Linked DNA regions of Homo sapiens: region 1 is linked to region 2. Evidence: fine-mapped expression QTL. A gene starts in region 2. The other region holds a variant in brackets. All regions are shown on one strand. Distances are between the middles of the regions. Region 1 holds the start of ZCCHC18 (zinc finger CCHC-type containing 18). Region 2 holds the start of SLC25A53 (solute carrier family 25 member 53).

Evidence for each region. PIP is the estimated chance that this variant, and not a neighbour inherited with it, causes the effect.
Region 1: its variant is fine-mapped to the expression of SLC25A53 in whole blood (TOPMed, PIP above 0.99). The same link has a PIP of 0.9 or more in T cells, blood mononuclear cells and lung.

Annotation. Positions count from the first base shown.
Region 1 is chrX:104,106,023-104,115,999 of GRCh38, forward strand. The region is part of intron 1 of SLC25A53 (solute carrier family 25 member 53); the gene reads right to left. ZCCHC18 (zinc finger CCHC-type containing 18) reads left to right here and starts at 6,501. Exons shown (of 3, transcript NM_001143978.3): 1 at 6,501-6,979; 2 at 7,173-7,224; 3 at 7,412-9,820. The coding sequence starts at 8,090. The coding sequence ends at 9,301. RefSeq lists an enhancer at 4,785-5,024 and a silencer at 6,222-6,451. The variant T/G (reference allele first, on the strand shown) is at 4,867.
Region 2 is chrX:104,151,809-104,161,785 of GRCh38, forward strand. SLC25A53 (solute carrier family 25 member 53) reads right to left here and starts at 5,201. Exons shown (of 2, transcript NM_001012755.5): 1 at 5,070-5,201. It also overlaps a transcript of FAM199X not described here. RefSeq lists an enhancer at 4,975-5,274.

The DNA of each region.
Region 1 (9,977 bases), 46 kb before region 2:
CTGCACTCGAGAATGTTCAGAGGCTCCCTGGCTTCGGCTCACTGCGTGCCAGTAGCACCAGTAGTGACTTACACAGTGTGATGACCAAAAATATCTTGAGACCTTGCCAAATGTCCCCTGGGAGGCAAAACTGCTCCCGGCTTAGAACCACTGTACTAGATAGAATAGGCAGTGCAAGGACCCCAAACTATTGCTCCTTACCCCAGAAAGGCCAGGAAGCAGATGGCTAGTATGAGAAGCAACTTGGAAGCCAGGACATATGAAGGAATTTTGGGATCTAAAGAAAAAAAATGAATGCTCAGTGCAGATCTGAGGGAGTTTGCCAGAGAGGAAAGAGGGGGTCCCTGGCTGACGAGACAGGGTGTGCAGAAGCCAGAGCTGCCACCTCAGGGAAAGGAACAGAGATGTGTGGGTGTGGGGCAGGAGGACAGGGGAGAGGCGGAGGGGCATGATGGCCAGGACGGAGGGCTTCCATCTACAGTGACAGGGACACAAAGCTTGGCAGGAACTGCAGACCCACAAGTTTCACACAGAACCCTGGGCTATGTGATGGGGGCATGAAGGTTGGGACTCTAATTAAGCTAGCAGGCCAATGGGGAACCAGAGAGTCCAAGCTGAGGTCCCCAGGGAGGAGTAGAAGCCACACACTGCAAGAAGCCCAATGCAGCCTTCCCGAGGCTGCCAGGCCAAGAATCCGCCTTGGTGTACTACTCCTTCCAAAATCACTCCCATCAGCTCTGCTCTTCCCTAGCCCCTTCTCCCTGCTCCATCCATCTCCCCACAATCCCATTCCTATCCCCACTGCTGCATCCATATCCCCACAATCTCATTCCTATCCCCACTGCTCCATCCATATCCCCACAATCTCATTGCTCCATCAATCTCCCCGCAATCCCATTCCTATCCCCATTGCTCCATCCATATCCCCACAATCTCATTCTATACCCCCTGCTCCATCCATATCCCCACAATCTCATTCCTATCTCCCTGCCCCATCCATATCCCCACGATCTCATTCTATCCCCCCTGCTCCATCCATATCCCACAGTCTCATTCATACCACCCTGCTCCATCCACATCCCCACAATCTCATTCATAACCCCACCCTGTTCCATCTATATCCCCACATTCTCATTTCTATCCCCTTTGCTCCATCCATTTTCTCACAATCTCACTTTACCACCACGCCCCTCCCCTGGAGCCACACTCACCTCTTGGTGGAGGCAGATGGAGGCTCAGCCTCCTGTACTCTGCCCATAACCACCTCCCCCTACCCCCACATTCCATGATGGCCTTGAGCCTCAGCCTCCTTTACCCTCATAGCCAGTACACTGGGAGGACCCCTCTGCCTCTGACCCTTTAGCTGAGAACTGAGCAGGAGTAAAAACTCAAGAGGCCCACTCTTTGCATCCCTTTGGGCCACCTCTGGCCCCTGGAAGCCCCACTTCCATTTCTCCAGAGCCAAAGGGGACTCCTCCCAGATACCCAGGCTGCTAAATCTACAGAAGCCCCCAACAGTCCTCAGCTCTCCTATCAAAGATCTTCTTTCCAAAGTCTTACCTTCACCTAAATAAGGACAGGTGGTGAAGTAAATATTTGTCCTTTCTTCTACCTCAGAGTGCAATAATGTTCCATTTCCTCCCTACCATTTATAAACATGTTCACTGACACCATGAGGCAGGATGATTTAGCAGAAAGAAAACTGGGCTAGGATTTGGCAGTGCAAGGACTCCCAACTATCGCACCTACCCCAGAAAGGCCAGGAAGCAGGTGGGGTAGTATGAGATACCAGCATTCTAAGTGAGTTTTATTATCAACTTGATGTGTGACCTTTAGAAATTCAGTGACATCTTGGAGCCTTACCCATCTGAGCTGTAAATGGAGCAGAAAGGGCAAAATAATTTTTAGTCATCTCCATACTGTATCTGTCAGAGGGGGGTGATATTGGGCATTCAGGTCAATAGTTGATAGAGGAATTGTACTTTTCAATCCCCAACTCCTTCTGCCATTTTTGTAAATCATTTTGGGGGAATAAAGGTGAACAATAATTGAGAAACATCTAACCTTAATATGTAATCCATTTTATAAATCCAATCCTTTCCATTTTATGGGAGGGGAGTTCGTGTTTCTCCCATGTATTTTCTGTTAAGATGCCAGGCTTTGGAAAGGGCAGACAGACCCGAGACTGAATTCTGCCTCTGCCACTTAGTTGTGTGACCTTGGAAAAGACATTTCATTCAGTCTCAGGTTCTTCAGCTACAAAACAGGGGTATTAAGATCCACCTCAAAACGTTGTGGCAGAGATTAATAACATAAAATGAGACAAAGTGGTTGAGAATCCATAACATGGTGGCCTTGATAAGAAGGATCAAAAAAAGATGCTTCTGGACTTCACTATCTGTCTCCACAGAACGCATGCTCCTTCTGGATGCTCTCGGGACAGCCATAACCAGATACAGGGGCATTTGGGAACAAATCTTCTGTTCCCAAGGGAGGCAGGGAAGCCCTTACTTCCACAAATAGGAAGGTGCAACATAAGCAATCTAGGAGAGCCTGGCCCCTTCACATGAATTCAAAGTATAGACCACAGAATGGACCTAGAGTTGGCCTTAAGCAGATATCACCTGTACCCTATGACCTGCCTCCTATGTTTACAGCCTAGTAAAATGAGCCCAGAGGATTCCAGACTCTCCCAGCCAGTCTAGTCCACATGGGTAGACTGTGTGACTGCCCCAGGATCCAGCCACAAATGAATGCATTTGTCTGTTCATTCAGGGCATCTCTCAGCCAGTCCTTTGGTCTGCTCACAAACATGTATTGATCATCCACTAAATCATTGTGGGTAAACCACCATAGAGCTAGAGTGAATAGAACTTGGTGCCTGCCCTCAAGTGCTTAGAAATCTAGTCAACTAGCTTGGGAGACAGGTCAACAGTGTGCTAAACTCTACAGAAAGACAAAATAAAGGGTACAGTAATGAAGGTGGAAGCAAAAAGACAACAGCAATTTATTCCACCTGAGAAGGGGCATATGACTCAATCCTTAATTGAGTAGAGTAGAATAGGCTGTTGTTAGGTAGGGGAGTGAGGGCAAGCATTCTAGGCTGAGGAAGTGGCCTAAGGCACATAGGCTTAAGAGTGTGAGTTGTGCATGGGGCTGGCCTACCCCATGTGGTGAGAAGGAAATAGAGCTGTGGTTGACAGAGAGAAGCCCATTTAAGATGAGGACCACATTTGTCTTCTCCGCTGCATTGTGTTGTAGGGCACAGAGATGGGCTCTGGATACAGGCAGCCCTGGGTTTGAATTTCACTCTGTCACTTCCTAGCTTTATAACCTTGGCCAAGTTTCATCATCTCGCTGATCCTCAGTATCCTTATATGTAAAATGATTGTCATGAAGGATGCATGAGACAAAGTATGGAAAGTGCTTAGCACAGCACCTGGTATATAAGTTGCTTCATAAGTTATATTAGCAGTTTCATTTTTTAAAAATGAGATAATAGGAATAAAGGCAAGATAACAATTAAATTGTTCTAAAGGCTGCAATTGGTCTAATGAACTGGGTTATCTACAGAATGCATTTTGGACTGCTTGTTTGGAAGGCAGCAAAGAAGAGTTTTCATGGGCTTTGGAGTTCGACATCCCTGGCCTGCAGTCTCAGTGCCTCCACTTACAAGTTGTGAAGCCTGACACAAGTTACTTAATGTCCCTGAAATTCAGTTTCCCTTTCTGCAAAATGGGATACAATAGCTGTCTCAACAGGGTTGATAAGAAGCTTAAAAGAGATAACAGACAGAAAGTTCCTGGCACAAAGGAGGCAGGCAGCCAAAGGCAGCTATTATTGTTTCAACTGAAAGCTTTATCTCCAAACCTTCAAGCTTTTAAGGTTTATTTGTTGAAATTAGAAAATGTGGTCTCATTAGAGGCATCAGTTGGAACACACTCATACATGTGAGGCCATGTCCTGTATCCAATTGAAGCCAGGTTGCAAATACTACCCCCATCCCTGCATGAAGAGTCCCTCGCTTTGTTCTAGTAGCCCAACCCTGGCACCTTTACACAATCCATTTCCTGTCATTATTTTTGTCTGAGCTCTGACACCTATTCTTGGTCCTATGTGATTCCATCCCTACCAAGTCCAGCTGCAAATACCTAATTTGGTGATAAAGCCAATTTAAACACTGAACAAGACTCTTCTGGGAGGTAAGGGTCAGATGTCACGGGATGGGGGAGCAGAAGCAAAAGTCTGAAGGAAACCTAAGAGCAACTGCCAGCATCACCCCTAAGTGTGTGAGGTGAGCAACTTGCCTTCTCCATACATCCACACTTTCCAGCCTCCACCACCACTACCCCACTGTTCCATCCACAGACCATGATCCTGAGATGGAAGGTGCTTATCTCCAAATTTTTATTGTTTACTCCAAGGAACTCTAGATCTTGGGGTTGTAAATAAGAGGGCGGAAAGGAGCAAGTGAAGTACCTTGGCAGACTGAAGATGAAGCCAACAGCAGCGGAAGGGCATCAGACTGTTTACTTGCTTCTAAACATCAGGAGTCAAGAACAAGCCCCACAGAAGCCTCCTAGCCACACTATACATAAAGGAAGTAATACCTGCTCTCTAAGTCAGGGAAAAATGGAGCAGGTTTTCCAGCCACTGCCTTCATGGCCATTCACTTTGGACAGCCCTGCATGCCGTTTCCATGGAGTTGCTCCTTCTCTGGGGCCAGTGATGCCAAATCCAGCAAAGGAGAAGTACCCTGAAGAGCTCACAGAAGGGCAACCTAGCAACCTGTCCTTGAGCCAGGAAATGAAAGAGCCATATCAGCAACAGAGAGCTGTGGTTTGGGGGTTAGGTTAAATGGGGTTT[T/G]ATTTCTCACACTTCTTCATCAAGCATGGCTTGAAGAAGGAAGACGTTATGACAGACCCATTTGAAAATCTGCAAAGCTGTGGGCTCAGAAGAATGTACGGAGTCCAGATTCTTTGCATACAATTCCAGGAAGGACCTCGGGTAGGAACCTGTGCTCTGGAGTTACATTTCATGACAGATATGCCATGGACAGATACACTGATGGCAGGCCCATTTACTTATAACCTTCAGCATCACGTGGTGGTGTTTAGAAAAGTGGTTCATGAATCTCTCTACACCTCAGAATCAACTACAGGGCTGGTTAAAACTACAAATCACACTCTTCACCCCTAGTCCTACTACATCAAAATCCCCCAGGGGTAAGGCCCAATAATCTACATTTATAACAAGCTCTCCAAAATGATTCTGAGGCAGCTCACCTTGTACTCACACTTTGGTTAATAGCATGAGTTCTGGATTCAGAGACTCAGTTCAAATTTTGGCTTCACCTTGTATTTTCAGACAAATCATTTTACCTCTCTGAGCCTGGCCTCTTTGGGGTCACAAAGGGCTGTCGAAATTATGTTGCTTTTATAAAACAGGCAGCTTGTTGTGTAAAAAGAAAAAAAAAGAAGAAAAGAAAAAAAGATTAATAAAAAAAATGAAAGAAAGAAAAGTACCAAGAAGAGTTTCCTCTTCTGTACAATGGGCACCATAAAGGTTGCCCTCATCTTCCCTCAGCCCTCTCCCCACTACCTCCTCACCCCCTCCCTCAGCACTATTATCACATTGAGACTGCTGTTGAGATGGTTTGAGACTACCTGTGCAAAAATACTCTCCAGGCAGCGCTGCAGGGCAACGAATTAGCATCTAGAGAGCAACAGACGGTGCTAGGTTGGATGCTGTAACTTATTTGCTGCAGGATACAGGCCAAAACTAGTAACCTGTCTCTCTCTGGCTCAGTTTCTTCATCTGTGAAATGGAGATAATGGTTCTTGCTCACCAATTCTATGCAATCCCAAGTTGGTCCTCCCATCTGGCTTTGGTTTTTCTCCACTATCCCTTAATCTGACAGAATAGAGGAGTGCTGGCAAGGGGCAGCCTTTGAAGTCAGACATGGTGACTTGGGTGTGAGCTCTTAACTCTGCACTTCCTAACTGTACTGCCTGGGTGCTTCAGTCCTTTCCTGTTAAATGGGCACACTACTACCTCCTTCACACGGCTGCTGAGAAGAGGAAAGGAGATGTCCATGCAGGCGCCTCTGCACACAGAAAGCACTCAGTAAACGCTGTTTCCCCGCTTCCCCCTATACAAAGGTGAGGAACTCTCATTGTTCACTTGGTTTCTGTCCCACCTCGTGTTTAAGGTATCCGGTCTAAAAGCCCGGAGGAGAGCCGAGGTGTAAGGGGATAGGGAGAAGGGAAGAGATGGGTTAGCAGCAAACTCACGGATGAAAGGGAAATGGGCCCAGTCCGTGCGTCCGAGCTGCTGACGCCGTGCCGCCTCCCGCGCCTGTCTGCCGCAGCCCCCGCCCGCCGGCCCGCCGGCCAGCCGGCCCGCTCCCCCTTCTTGCTAGCAGTAGCTTCGGGGCCGGAGGCTGTGCGGCGAGGCCGCCCCCTCGCCCCGCTGATTGGCCGCGTCGCCCGGCCCGTCACGCTCTTTTGTCTCAGTCGCCAGAGACTGAAAGCAACCGCGGCTGCCCGGAGGGCCGAACTGGAGGGTGGGCGCAGCCTTGGCTGCCTTGGGAACCGTGCTGCCTCGACTCGGCTACCCCTCGCTGGGCGGTCGTGCGCACTCGCTAGGTCGGGCAGCCCCGGGTCGCTTAGCGGCCGAGGAGGCGGCAGAGATCCCGTTCCCCTGCAGAGCTACGGGGACCGGAAGGCGAAACAGAGCTGTGGACGCGGGAGCACATGCTGCCCACCAGTGGAGCACAAGTAAAGAAAGAACGCGCGATTGCCCGGCGCGGAGAGGGGTGGGGGAAGCCCCGCCAGGACTGGGCGGCGCCCGGCTTGGAGAATCAGTAACTGCGAGGCAGGGGATGGAGCACTCCCTTGGCCTGGTTGCGCTGAGGAAGGAGTTGTGGTTCATCTGGATGCTGCCGACTGGATAGGATTTAGGATTTGCCTGGATTAAGGTGGGTGGGGGTGTTGTCGTAGGTCGGGGGTGTTGTTGGGTGTCGGGGGCGGGGTGTGTTCGGGGAGGTGGCAAGGGGCGGGAGGAGACGATCGCAAGCTGTCTTGAACCCCTTTTGCATCTCCTCATCTCTTCCTGGGAAGGAATATGAGGGTGGGAGGTTATCCAACTTCTAGTCTCTTTCTCCCTGGCAGGTCATCAAAGCCGAATCCGAACTTGAATTCTGTGCGGCGGATTGCAGAGCTGGTAGGGCGAGGGTCTCCCGGAGGAAATGTAAGGGGGATGCGCGGGAGGGCAGGAGGCACTTTGGCTTGCGTTCAGAAGATGGGAGAGGGAATTTTCCGCCTGGCGACAGTGGAGGCGGTGGAGGGGAGGTATCAGGTTTTCAGATGAAGCTGCTTCCAACCCTTCCTTTCCCTCCTTCGCGGCACAGTCTTGAGGCCCTGAGGACTGGGATCTGCGACACCCAGTGGACAAAAGTCGGCCGTACCCCAGAGGCTAATTTTCTCACGGCAGGCACCTGTTGCAGAGGCTGCACGTAAAATAAAGGCGAACGCTAGTTTCCGAGCTCATGTAAGAATCTGAGAAATAACGGGGGAAACGTTGACAAGGGGGTGTGATTGAGACCTGAGGCCATGAGGTTAATGGTTTCTTATTATCATAAATCTGTGACACACAACCATTGAGTTCCGTTTTGAGGGCCCAGTATCAGCTCCCAACACTATGTCATCTAGAATTAGAAGCAACAGTTGTCGCCCCTCCTGGAGTACAGGCAGGAGGGGATGGATGTGGCTCTGAAAAACTACCTACTAGCCCAGGGACACCTGCTAGCTCTGGAATGTTGTAATTGCCAGTCTCCTGCAGGGTATTGTTAAGGCACTGGGCAGATATAAAATGCACTGCAAGGCTATTCAGGAAGATAGAGAATGCTACTGCAGACTGCTTCCCCACAGCCCACTATCTTATTAACCTTTTTTACTTTCCTTAGAATCCCTACTGAAATATAAGGCAGGCACAGCCCAGGAACGTTGCTTTGGAGAATCCTGCAGATAAGGCTTTTCCAAAAAGCGCGAGCATCTTGTTGTATTCAGATACCCTATCGTCGTCAGTCATGGCTAGCATCACTGCGTGTGTGGGTAACAGCAGGCAGCAGAATGCACCTTTGCCGCCTTGGGCCCATTCCATGTTGAGGTCTCTGGGGAGGAGTCTCTGTCCTTTAGTGGTCAAAATGGCAGAGAGAAACATGAAGTTGTTCTCAGGAAGAGTGGTGCCAGCCCAGGGGAAAGAAACCTTTGAAAACTGGCTGATCCAAGTCAATGAGGTCCTGCCAGATTGGAGTATGTCTGAGGAGGAAAAACTCAAGCGCTTGATGAAAACACTTAGGGGCCCTGCCCGGGAGGTCATGCGTTTGCTTCAGGCGGCCAACCCCAACCTAAGTGTAGCAGATTTCTTGCGGGCAATGAAATTGGTGTTTGGGGAGTCTGAAAGCAGTGTGACTGCCCATGGTAAATTTTTTAACACCCTGCAGGCACAAGGGGAGAAAGCCTCCCTTTATGTGATCCGTTTAGAGGTGCAGCTCCAGAATGCTATTCAGGCAGGCATCCTAGCTGAGAAAGATGCAAACCAGACTCGCTTGCAACAGCTTCTTTTAGGCGCTGAGCTGAATAGGGACCTGCGCTTCAGGCTTAAGCATCTTCTCAGGATGTATGCAAATAAGCAGGAGCGGCTTCCCAATTTCCTGGAGTTAATCAAGATGATAAGGGAGGAAGAGGATTGGGATGATGCTTTTATTAAACGGAAGCGGCCGAAAAGGTCTGAGCCAATAATGGAGAGGGCAGCCAGCCCTGTGGCATTTCAGGGCGCCCAGCCAATAGCAATCAGCAGTGCTGACTGTAACTGCAACGTGATAGAAATAGATGATACCCTTGATGACTCTGATGAGGATGTGATCCTGGTGGTGTCTCTGTACCCTTCACTGACACCTACAGGTGCCCCTCCCTTCAGAGGAAGAGCCAGACCTCTGGATCAAGTGCTGGTTATTGATTCCCCCAACAATTCTGGGGCTCAGTCTCTTTCTACCAGTGGTGGTTCTGGGTATAAGAATGATGGTCCTGGGAATATTCGTAGAGCCAGGAAGCGAAAATACACAACCCGCTGCTCATATTGTGGGGAGGAGGGCCACTCAAAAGAAACCTGTGACAATGAGAGCAACAAGGCCCAGGTTTTTGAGAATCTGATCATCACCCTGCAGGAGCTGACACATACAGAGGAGAGGTCAAAAGAGGTCCCTGGAGAACACAGTGATGCTTCTGAGCCACAGTAAGGATCTAGTCCAGCCCTAAATGAGTCCTTGACTGTATTCAGAGTCTGGTAATGGGAATAACAGGAGAGGGGGGTGGGTTTCTAACTGCATGAATTAATCCACAAAGCAGTTTTCCTTTGGGAAGGAGAAGAGGTCTTGCATACCAGCACAGTGGATGGGGAATGGTGTGACCTCTGTCCCTGCTCTCTTCTCTGCTGGCTTAAGGGTCTATTCTCCATGTGTCTATTTCTTTGATGACTTTATACTTTTTATGAAAGGAGCATCTTTTCATTAAACCTTCAAAAATAAAGGAAGATACAAAAACTAAAGTACAAATTACCTGAAACTCAGCACCCTTTTGTAACCATTGTCAGCCCTTTGGTGAATGTCCTTCCAGATATCTCCCTGTACCTGTGTACCCAGATAGATATATGTATAGATAAGAGTGACCAAATATAAGTGCTGTTCTATACTGTGTATTTTTCACCAAATAATGTATCTCGTGGACTTCTATGTCGATGAATATATATAAATATCTAACTTCATGTCTCTGTGTGATGTTACTTTTAGAAAGATAAAGAAAAATGAAACTAAATATAGAAGCTATAAGGGGGGGTCATACCATGAGGAGGGGTTTTTATCGACCTCATTTATAGGAAAGGAGAAAGGAAGCTGAAATGGACTGAATATCTCCCAT
Region 2 (9,977 bases):
AATGGAGCTACAGAGTTCAAACTTACATAAGTTTGTTTTATCTCCTCACATTTCACGGAAAATAACACTACCTGTAAGACTAGGTGTGGATTTAGACAGATGAGGACTACTGTGGAGGTGCAGGGTAAGTGCACAAGCATTAAGTGAGAGGCTCACCAATCACGTGCAAAAGTTGATTAATTTTCAGGAGTCATATGTGGTTGTCTCGCTGACTCCTTTGGAATATGGACATGATAGAGAACAGATTTCTTTTCTGTTTTTTTTGTTTCGTGTTGTTTTTTATTATACTTTAAGTTTTAGGGTACATGTGCACAACGTGCAGGTTTGTTACATATGTATACATGTGCCATGTTGGTGTGCTGCACCCATTAACTCGTCATTTAGCATTAGGTATATCTCCTAATGCTATCCCTCCCCCCTCCCCCCACCCCATGACAGGCTCTGGTGTGTGATGTTCCCCTTCCTGTGTCCATATGTTCTCAATGTTCAATTCCCACCTGTGAGTGAGAACATGCGGTGTTTGGTTTTTTGTCCTTGCAATAGTTTGCTGAGAATGATGGTTTCCAGCTTCATCCATGTCCCTACAAAGGACATGAACTCATCATTTTTTATGGCTGCATAGTATTCCATGGTGTATATGTGCCACATTTTCTTGGTTCGCTCTTGCCGCCCAGGCTGGAGTACAATGGCGCGATCTCGGCTCACTGCAACCTCTGCCTCCCAGGTTCAAGCGATTCTCCTGCCTCAGCCTCCTGAGTACCTGGGATTACAGGCACCTGCCACCACGTCCAGCTAATTTTTGTATTTTTAGTAGAGACAGGGTTTCACCATGTTGACCAGGCTGGTCTTGAACTCCTGACCTCAGGTGATCCACCTGCCTCGGCCTCCTAAAGTGCTGGGATTACAGGCGTGAGCCACCGCGCCCAGCCTGAGAACAGATTTCTGAAACATCCAAGGCACTGGCCATTCTAGCACCTTGCTGGCCCCTACAAAGACTCACAATAGACTCAGGCCAGTTTGTATGGACTTTTTGGTTGTCTTTTTATGTGTGTCTGAGTGTTTGGTTTGGGGTTTCATTTATTTTGTTTTGTAACTGGCCTAGCGAGATTTGGGATGAAGCATTGACAAGAGTCTAGAATGATTAGTGAAATTTCTGAAAATGTGTCCTAGCCTTTTTCAGGGTCATGGGAGGGGGTTTGAACGGGAGGTATAACTGTGGACTGCCACCCTCCAGGAGTCTGTTTAGGGCCACCCCCTAAAGGAAGGCTTCAAATTAAGCTGTAACAAAATGAGATTTCTGATTCTGTGTTCTAGAGTAAATAAAATGATTTCAGTCACACCTTGCATAGCAACAGGAATATATTCTGAGAAATCCATCGTTAGGCAATTTCATTGTGAGAACATCATAGACTGTACTTACACAAACCTAGAGTGTGTGTATATATATATATATATTTTTTTTTTCTCATATGGAAAACAAAATGTTCCAGTACCAATAATGAACATCAATCATTACCGCAACTGATCTGCAATGCCAATATCAAGTGCTGTATATCAGGTTTCTATATATGCTCCATTATAATCTTCTGGGACTACCATAATATATGTGGTCCATCGTTGACCAAAATGCCACTATGCAGTGAATAACTGTATTTCTTCTAAAGGGAGAGTTTTATTGGTGGGGGTGGAACTACCTACCAATTCTGACTTCTTATACTAATCTTTGTCTGTCAATTAGCTTGTCACATTGTCTTTTTAATTTTTAACCTCAAACATAATTTATTACCAGAAATTAGGAACACTTCATTTTTCGTTGTTGATACAGTGGAGGTGTGAACTCCACTGTAAACAACTACTTGAATATATAAAAATCAGCAAGGGATTTGAATAGAAAACTGCTACTTTGTGTTTTTAAACAATTTATGGTATAAGTCACTGTGACAAGTACAATGGAGAAAAACAATTTGCTTTGTTTAGTTCAGGAAGATGACCTTTGCTCGACCATCCAAAACATACAAACAACAAAAACACATCCATTTTATTAAAGACTTAAATATATGACCTGAGACCATAACACTACAAGAAGAAAACCTAGGGAAGAAACTACAGGACACTGGTCTGGGCAATGAATTTTGGGGTTTGACCCCAAAAGCTCAAATAACAAAAGCAAAACTAGACAAATGGAATTACATCGAACTAAAATGTTTCCGCACAGCAAAGAAAACAATTAACAGAGGGGAGAGACAGCCTACAGATTGGGAGAAAATATTTGCAAGCCCTACTTCTAATAAGGTGTTAATGTCCAAAATATATAAGGGACTCAAATGACTAAGTAGCAAAAAGACAACCTGATTAACAAATGGACAAAGGACCCGAATAGACATTTCTCAAATGAAGACACACAAATGGCCAACAGGCATAAGAAAAAATGCTCAACATCACTAATCGCTAGGGACATGCAAATTAAAATCACAATGATATATTATCTCACACCTTCCAGAATGGCTATTATCAAAAAGGTGAAAGATAACAGGCCAGGATATGGAGAAAAGGCAACCCTATACATTGTTGGTGGGAATATAAATTAGTACAGCCATTATGGAAAACTGTATGGAGGTTCCTCAAAAAACTAAAAATAGAATTACTATATGATCCAGCAATCCCACTTCTGGGTATATATCCAAAGAATTTGAAATCAGTATGTCGAAGAGATATCTGTACTCTTATGTTCATTGCAGGATTTATCACAATAGCCAAGTTATGGGATCAACCTAAGTGTCCATCAGTGGATGAACAGATAAAGCAAATGTGCTATACATACACAATGAAATATTATTCAGTCTTCAAAAATCAGGAAAATCTGTCCATTGATGAGCCTGGAGAACATTATGCTAAGTGAAATAAGCCAGGCACAGAAAGACAAATACTTCATGTTCTCACTTGTATGTGGAATCTAAAACAATGGAACCCACAAACACAGAGAATAGAATGGTGGTGATATTTCAAAATTTCATATTCCAAAAGAGCTAAGAGTACATTTCAAATGTTAGCACCACAAAAAAACTATTAAATTCCATGTTGAGTCATTTTTGTGTAAAAAAAGATAAAATTTTAGGTGATGAATATGTTATTTACCTTGATTTAATCATTCTACATTGTATATATATAAAATACCACTTTGAACTCTATAAATGTATACAATTTGTAAATATACAATAAAATTATACAAATATAAAAATAAAAAGATTTTCTAAGCAGTGTCAAATAAGTCCATTTTATTTCATATCTACTGTGTCTGAATTCAGACATGCCTGACGTTTAGGAGTGTGCCTAGCCTTCCCTAGGGGAGATATTCTTTTTTTTTTTTTGAGACAGAGTCTCACTCTGTTGCCCAGGCTGGAGTGCAGTGGCGCAATCTTGGCTCACTGCAACCTCTGCCTCCCGGGTTCTAAGAGATTCCAGGAGATATTCTTTCCAATTTATTGTCAGCTCCGTTTAGACCTATAGTTCTCCAAGTATGGCCCCATGTCCAGGAGTATCAGCATCTCCTGGGAACTAGTTAGAAATGTAAATTCGGGGGTCCACTCCTGACCAACTGTAGGGGCAACTCTGTGGATGGGACCTAGCAATCTTGGTTTTAAGAAACGCTCCATCTGATTCTGATTCACAGGAAAGTTTGAGAGCCACTGACTTAGACTGCTATACTGTTGTTTCTCTGGTAAACAAAGAGGCTTCTTTTCTTGTTCAGAGAAATATTGCTTAGGATTTCTGGTGGGTGCACAATTCCCTGCTGTGAACCGAGTTTGCTGGAAAACCAAGTAACTAGCACCTCCATCGTAGTCCTACCCAGAGCTTGCAGGCTTTGCACTCACGTAAGACTGATTCTTCCAGAGGCGCCTGGAAGTCCCATTGTGATGGGCAAATGCTCTTACCAGAAATAAACTAGTTGTGGGGACCGGGCGCGGTGGCTCATGCCTGTAATACCAGCACTTTGGGAGGCCGAGGCAGGCGGATCACTTGAGGTCAGGAGTTCGAGGCCAACCTGGCCAACATGGTAAAACCCCGTCTCTACTAAAAATATAAAAATATAAAAATTAGCCGGGAGTGGTGGTGGGTGCCTCTAATCCCAGCAACCCGGGAGGCTGAGGCAGGAGAATCACTTGAACCCGGCAGACGGAGGTTGCAGTGAGCGGAGATCACGCCACTGCATTCCAGCCTGGGCGACAGAAGTAGAGAGACTCCTTATCAAAAAAAAAAAAAAGAAAGAAAGAAAGAAAAAAAAAAAGAAATACACTAATTTTGGGCCTTAAATGCTACTCAGTTCTCCAGTTCACCTCAACAGGGAGGGAAGGTGCTTGGAGGAAAATTGCACTTCGTTTTTGCCCTGCTTATTTTGTCTTCAAAATATATGTTAAATCACCGCATCAAAGAGCCGTCCCAGATCTCAACTCCCAGATGAGTTCGGTGGCACCCAATAGATTTTCATAACACAGGATCTATCTCTGTCTCCTTGTATTGTAATAGCCTGTCTCCAAATGCAGATAGCAACCGGCAGGCTGTAAATGTCGAGGAAAAAGCCTAATTCCTTTCCTCATCCGGAGCCTCTAGTGCAGTACCCAGCACAGAGCAGGTACTTGGTATTTTGGTAAGGGAAATCAATCAACGCATCAATAGCAGAATCTGAAACCAGGGACCTAGATCTTTCCAATAAAATCATCCTGCTGAGATGTGACTCAGATGTACTGGTGCCCAGCAGACAACACGTTTTCGCCCTGATTTTATCCTCCATTCATCCGTCCGCCCCCTCCCCCATAGACCCCGCCTGTCCCCAGCTAAAAATAATGAGGGGATTCACACATCTCAGTGTCAACACACACAACACAGTTGACACGCCCCTTAATCCTACAGCTACGCCATCAATTCTCGCCGCCGGGTCCGTCCGCTTGTCAGTTTCCCCTACTCCTCATCCCCTCGCAACTTCTGATCCCCTATCACTTCCGTTCCCGTTTGCCTGCTAGGCTGGAAGCAGGATGTGTCTACGCCCTCAGCCCATAAGAAGTGCTACAAACCTCCGCCTCGCTCGCTGTCATGGCGGCGACCGACGGCCCCTTTCCTGTGGCCTCAGAAAGCAGCGACAGTCGCAGTCACCGGACCTTCGCCCATCCGCCGCCCTCACTTAAGCGACGCACAACGGAGCTCCCACAATCCTCTTTGCTTCCGCTCTCTTTATTTCCGCCTCCCCCGCCCCCGCCTCGACATTAACCGTTTCGCGACTACGTCAGTTGGCCGGTCTGTTTGGGAGAGCCAGGCGACTAATCTGGTATAGAGACCGAAAAACACAGGTAAAAAGACCTAAAAGACTTAGTCATCTATTGGAACATTTCCCCAGTTTGTTTGTAAGTTGGCTTGCAAGCTTATCAGTCATTCTCAAACAGGAGCTTAACTTACTTAGGTGAACAGTTCATGATGACGCCTTTAAGCTGCTAGACCAACCCAAACTCCGAATTTGCAGTTTCTGACCTTTCACCTTGAACCTGTGCCCTTTCTACCCTCTATTCTCCATCTCCTTTTGGTTCTTGTCTGACTCTTTAGCTGCATATGTAAAGAGCACAGACTTTGAAACCTGAGCTCCCGCGTTCGAATCCCCACTGTACCACTATCTAAACATGGCATCTTGGGCAAGTGATTCAAGCATGCTATTCCTTGGCTTTTTCATCTGTAGAATTGGTATAATAATAGTACTTACCTCCAGAGTTGCAGTAAAAATATTAAAATTTCACATGTGAGGAGCACCTAGAACATTGCCTATCATGAAGTTAAGCAGTATATTGAAATATAAATTATAATGATTGAATTTGATCTCACCTAAGACCTCTGGCTAATAAATAATAAATGATAATAATCATTTCACCTGGGATAGAGGGGATTGCCCTGTTCTCTCCAGGCTGAGGCTGTAATACCTGATTCTAGGGACTGCTGATATGGAAATTACTACCACTCTGGCTGGAGTCAGAAGAGTATATTAAAGAGTCTCTTTGTACTGTCCTAAAATAAGCAAAATCCAACGTTTGCAGTTCTATGGACCACGCACTATGATAAGTGCTTTAAACCCATTTTGTTGTTATTGCTTCATCCTCACAATAGCCCTTTGCTGGTTCTTAAGTGTATTACCCTTTCCTGTCCTCTTTGTCTGCTTAAAGCAGCTAAGAAAACTCAGATTAGTCAGATTGCATATAAATCAATAACTTGCCCACGGTCACAGAGCTAATAACAAATAGAGCCAAGACTTAAACTCAGATACATTCAGATGTGTCTTGGTATTTCTCAAATATCACTGAGAAAAAGGCCACCATAAATTCTTTTCAAGTGCTCTCTCTCCCCCAACTCCCCACCCCAAGAATTGCCTGAATGCCCATACAGAAAGACTAGGTTCTCTTCAGAAGCAGAAGGGCAGAACCCACTAAGGCAAAGATCTCTCCCTTGAAGGCTGGCAGCCAAGGAGGTGACTATAGTAGGAATTGGCATAACCAGCTCACTCATTGCCCTCCACTGTGCCACACAGGCCCCATTACTTCCTATAGTACTGAAGACCACTGGGGATAAAGGTACAGGGCCTTCACCTCATCCCACCGTTCTGTAAAGCTTGGATATTAGCAAAGATCTTGCTTATTTTAGGACAGTACAATGAGACTCTTTAATATACTCATCTGACTCCACCCAGAGTGGTAGTAGTAATTTCCATATCAGCAGTCCCTAGAGTCAGGAATTACTGCCTCAGCCTGGAGAGAACAAACCAATCCCCTCTGTCCCAGGTTAAAACAAAACAGGAATTCCCTCTGTTCCTTCAGAATGTACGGTACCCAGGATGTTGTTATTCTTGCTCCACACCTACCCACTCTCACTTCCCAACTTATCATCAGGCAGTCCACAATGGTTTTTTCAGGGGAAGGATTGGTGATGGTGAAGGGACTGAAGGAGAAGGTAAATCACCAGGTTTGCTGAAGGTAAATGAAGCACTGCCTTGTCCCTACCTCTGTACCTCTTTTGTAGCTCCCTGACCTTCTTTCTCATTTGGCATTTCAGAACCCATCACTCCACACCTAGGAAACCCTCTTGGGTTTGAATTGCAGACAAATCATCTTGTCTTTTATTTTTTCCCCCAACACCCAACGATAGCACACATGTCTGGGCTTGGCCAAATTTAAAAACAAAAATAACAGAGGTAGCACGGAAAGACTTTTTACTTAATTTTCTCCATTATTTCTAGCTGTCAAACTATTAGAAAGTGTCAGTGTAAGGGGTAGAGCTGTGAGAAGTCGAGTTTCAGAGGCGAGGAAAGAGAAAAATCCTGATGCAAAGCAAAAGTGTTGGCAGAGGAAAGACGAGCCAACAAGAGTGTCTCTAGGGCCGGTAGAAATAAACAAATGGTGGAGATTGGTGAGTGGGTTTCATACACAAAGAAACCTTTCCCTTTTAGCTCCTTTCACCCTACACACCATATCCCCATTCCAGAGACTTCATCTGCCTTAAATTCTCCTAACCAACCCAGTTCTTTCCTTGCTGGGCATCTTGCCCTAATGGCAGAATTCACCACCAGCTGCTACTGCTAAGCAAACTGGGTAGTTGAGGGGAGAGGATGTTCGTAAACCCAATGTTAGAAAGGGAGATGTGTTCCTAGCATCCTTAGTCGTACTCATAGCATATTTTTAGAAGCAATGCTCTACGTACATAATTTAAGTGTTCAGGTTCTGCAGTGCTTTCTTCAGTATGTTTCAGTTATTTGTTTCTTCAGAGCTGTTCTGGGGTCCTAACATATATATGACAGTGTTTCTATACCATAGTGTTTTACACAGCTGGTGACCAGTTCAGGCCCCCTTTACAAGGCAGATAGATCCATCCCCCAGCTGCTGTGGGTATTAGCTGATGAATACAGCTGCTTCCTTCTCTGCAGAATTGCACTCTGCAGAAGAGGTTCATTGCCTGGGAGATTTCTGTTTAATAACCCCAACCCCTACACACACAACCCTGCAGCCAAAAGCAATGACTAACTGATGATGAGAGTACAAGGGTACCTTGCCTCAAGGTTGACCAATTCTGTGGTGTAAATCCTACTCCAGAGCTCCTCCTGGGATTAGGCTAGAGCTTGTTTCCAGCGAGCTTAGGTTTTTTCCTCCAGCCATATCCTGCTTCTCTCACTCCGCTGCTGCTGAGAGCACTCGCTCTAAATCACTGGCCCAAGAATCATGCCCCACCTTAGGCTCTGCTTCTAGGGAACCCTAATACTCATCATGCTCAGCTCATGTTTGTCAGAGGATCATGTAAAGAAGTCCCTCTGTAGGCCCTCTGTTGTAGGCAGAGCCATCGTACCCATCTCTGGGGAAGTCAGGAGTGAGTTAAGATGTAACTGGATAAGACCTCTTAAGTCAAACTTGAACATCTGTCCTAACTCAGATTAAAATGAGATCTGGCCTATTCCTGAAATCTACTGTCTTGGTGACACCAGCAGACTACATTCTATCAAATTAGAAATGAAGATATATCTGTTTGTGCTTCATTGTGGAAAAATTATGTTTTTATTAAAAAGAGTTATGTGGCATTTGTTAAAATTTTAGTTAAGTCACAATTATTTTGTGATAGACACTGCTATAATAGCATGAATCTTAAATTTATCAGCTGTTGGTTGCTATATGTTTGTTGAGTGTAAACTCTGTGTTGTCAAAGATGATCAAAGAATGAGCCCAAGGTTAGATACCTGATAAGCATGCTCCGATTAGTCTAGAAGTGTTAAAAGAAAAAGAAACAACAACAGACCGGATTACCAGCTTGCAAATAATAAAAACATATCCTAATTTAATAATTCTTCTATGATTCAGAAGACATATTGGATCATCTTTACAAACTTCAATCATAATATTGTAAAAATGTACAAGTACTAGTTAAGAGTAATGTTCAGATTGAAAAAAATGTTCAGGTTGAAAATGACCAGATTGTTGAAATATATATTTGCAAGGATGAAAATTTCAAAACATCTAGCATCTCCTCCAAAGTATATATCCTATTATTTACATAGTAAATAATGTATAGTCACTGATTCTAATCTCACTTGACTAAATCCATTCCTCTAGCTACAATAAAAGAACCAAGATAATAATTTTCTTTAGGATTACCTATTTCTGAATATATTTTAATACATTCCTTTTGCTATGACCTCTTGTAATTGGTTCCTTTTATTATTTTTATTTACATGTATTATATATCATAATTTATTTTAATTCCTTTTTTGCTGTTTAGCAAAATATATGATCATCTTCCTCTCCAAAAAAATCAGATTATGGAGGGTCTTTTAAGTGGTTACTTTTGGTAACTAAAACAAACATTTTCTTAAGAAAATATCATTAAACCAAAAATTCATACTGATCTGAGAAATGTTGGTTGTTTCTGAAAAGCCCTTTCTACATTAGTCAAATAAATTACAATATTTGTAAGTCTCATGGAGTATTTTAGTTGTGTACAAGATTTTCATTAAAGCATAGGAAAGAATATCATAGCTACTTGCTTAACACACATATACATCAAAGAGGAGATATGACTTTCCTAACTTATCTGTAACAATGGCTAAACAAAGGTTTGGTAAGAGCAATTGAAGAATGGTGAATTACCCCATTCATTAAAATTTTTAAAGTACTTAAACATTAGACTGGATAGAATTTTACGGGGGAACAATATATCTTATGTTCTTTTTAAAAAGAAGAAGAAAGAGGCTGGGCGTGGTGGCTCACCCCTGTACAATTTGGGAGGCCGAGGTGGGCGGATCACGAGGTTAGGAGTTTGAGACCAGTCTGAACAACATGGTGAAACCTCATTTCTACTAAAAATACAAAAATTAGCCGGGCGTGGTGGTTCATGCCTATAATCCCAGCTACTCAGGAGGCTGAGGCAGGAGAATCACTTGAACCTGGGAGGTGGAGGTTGCAGTG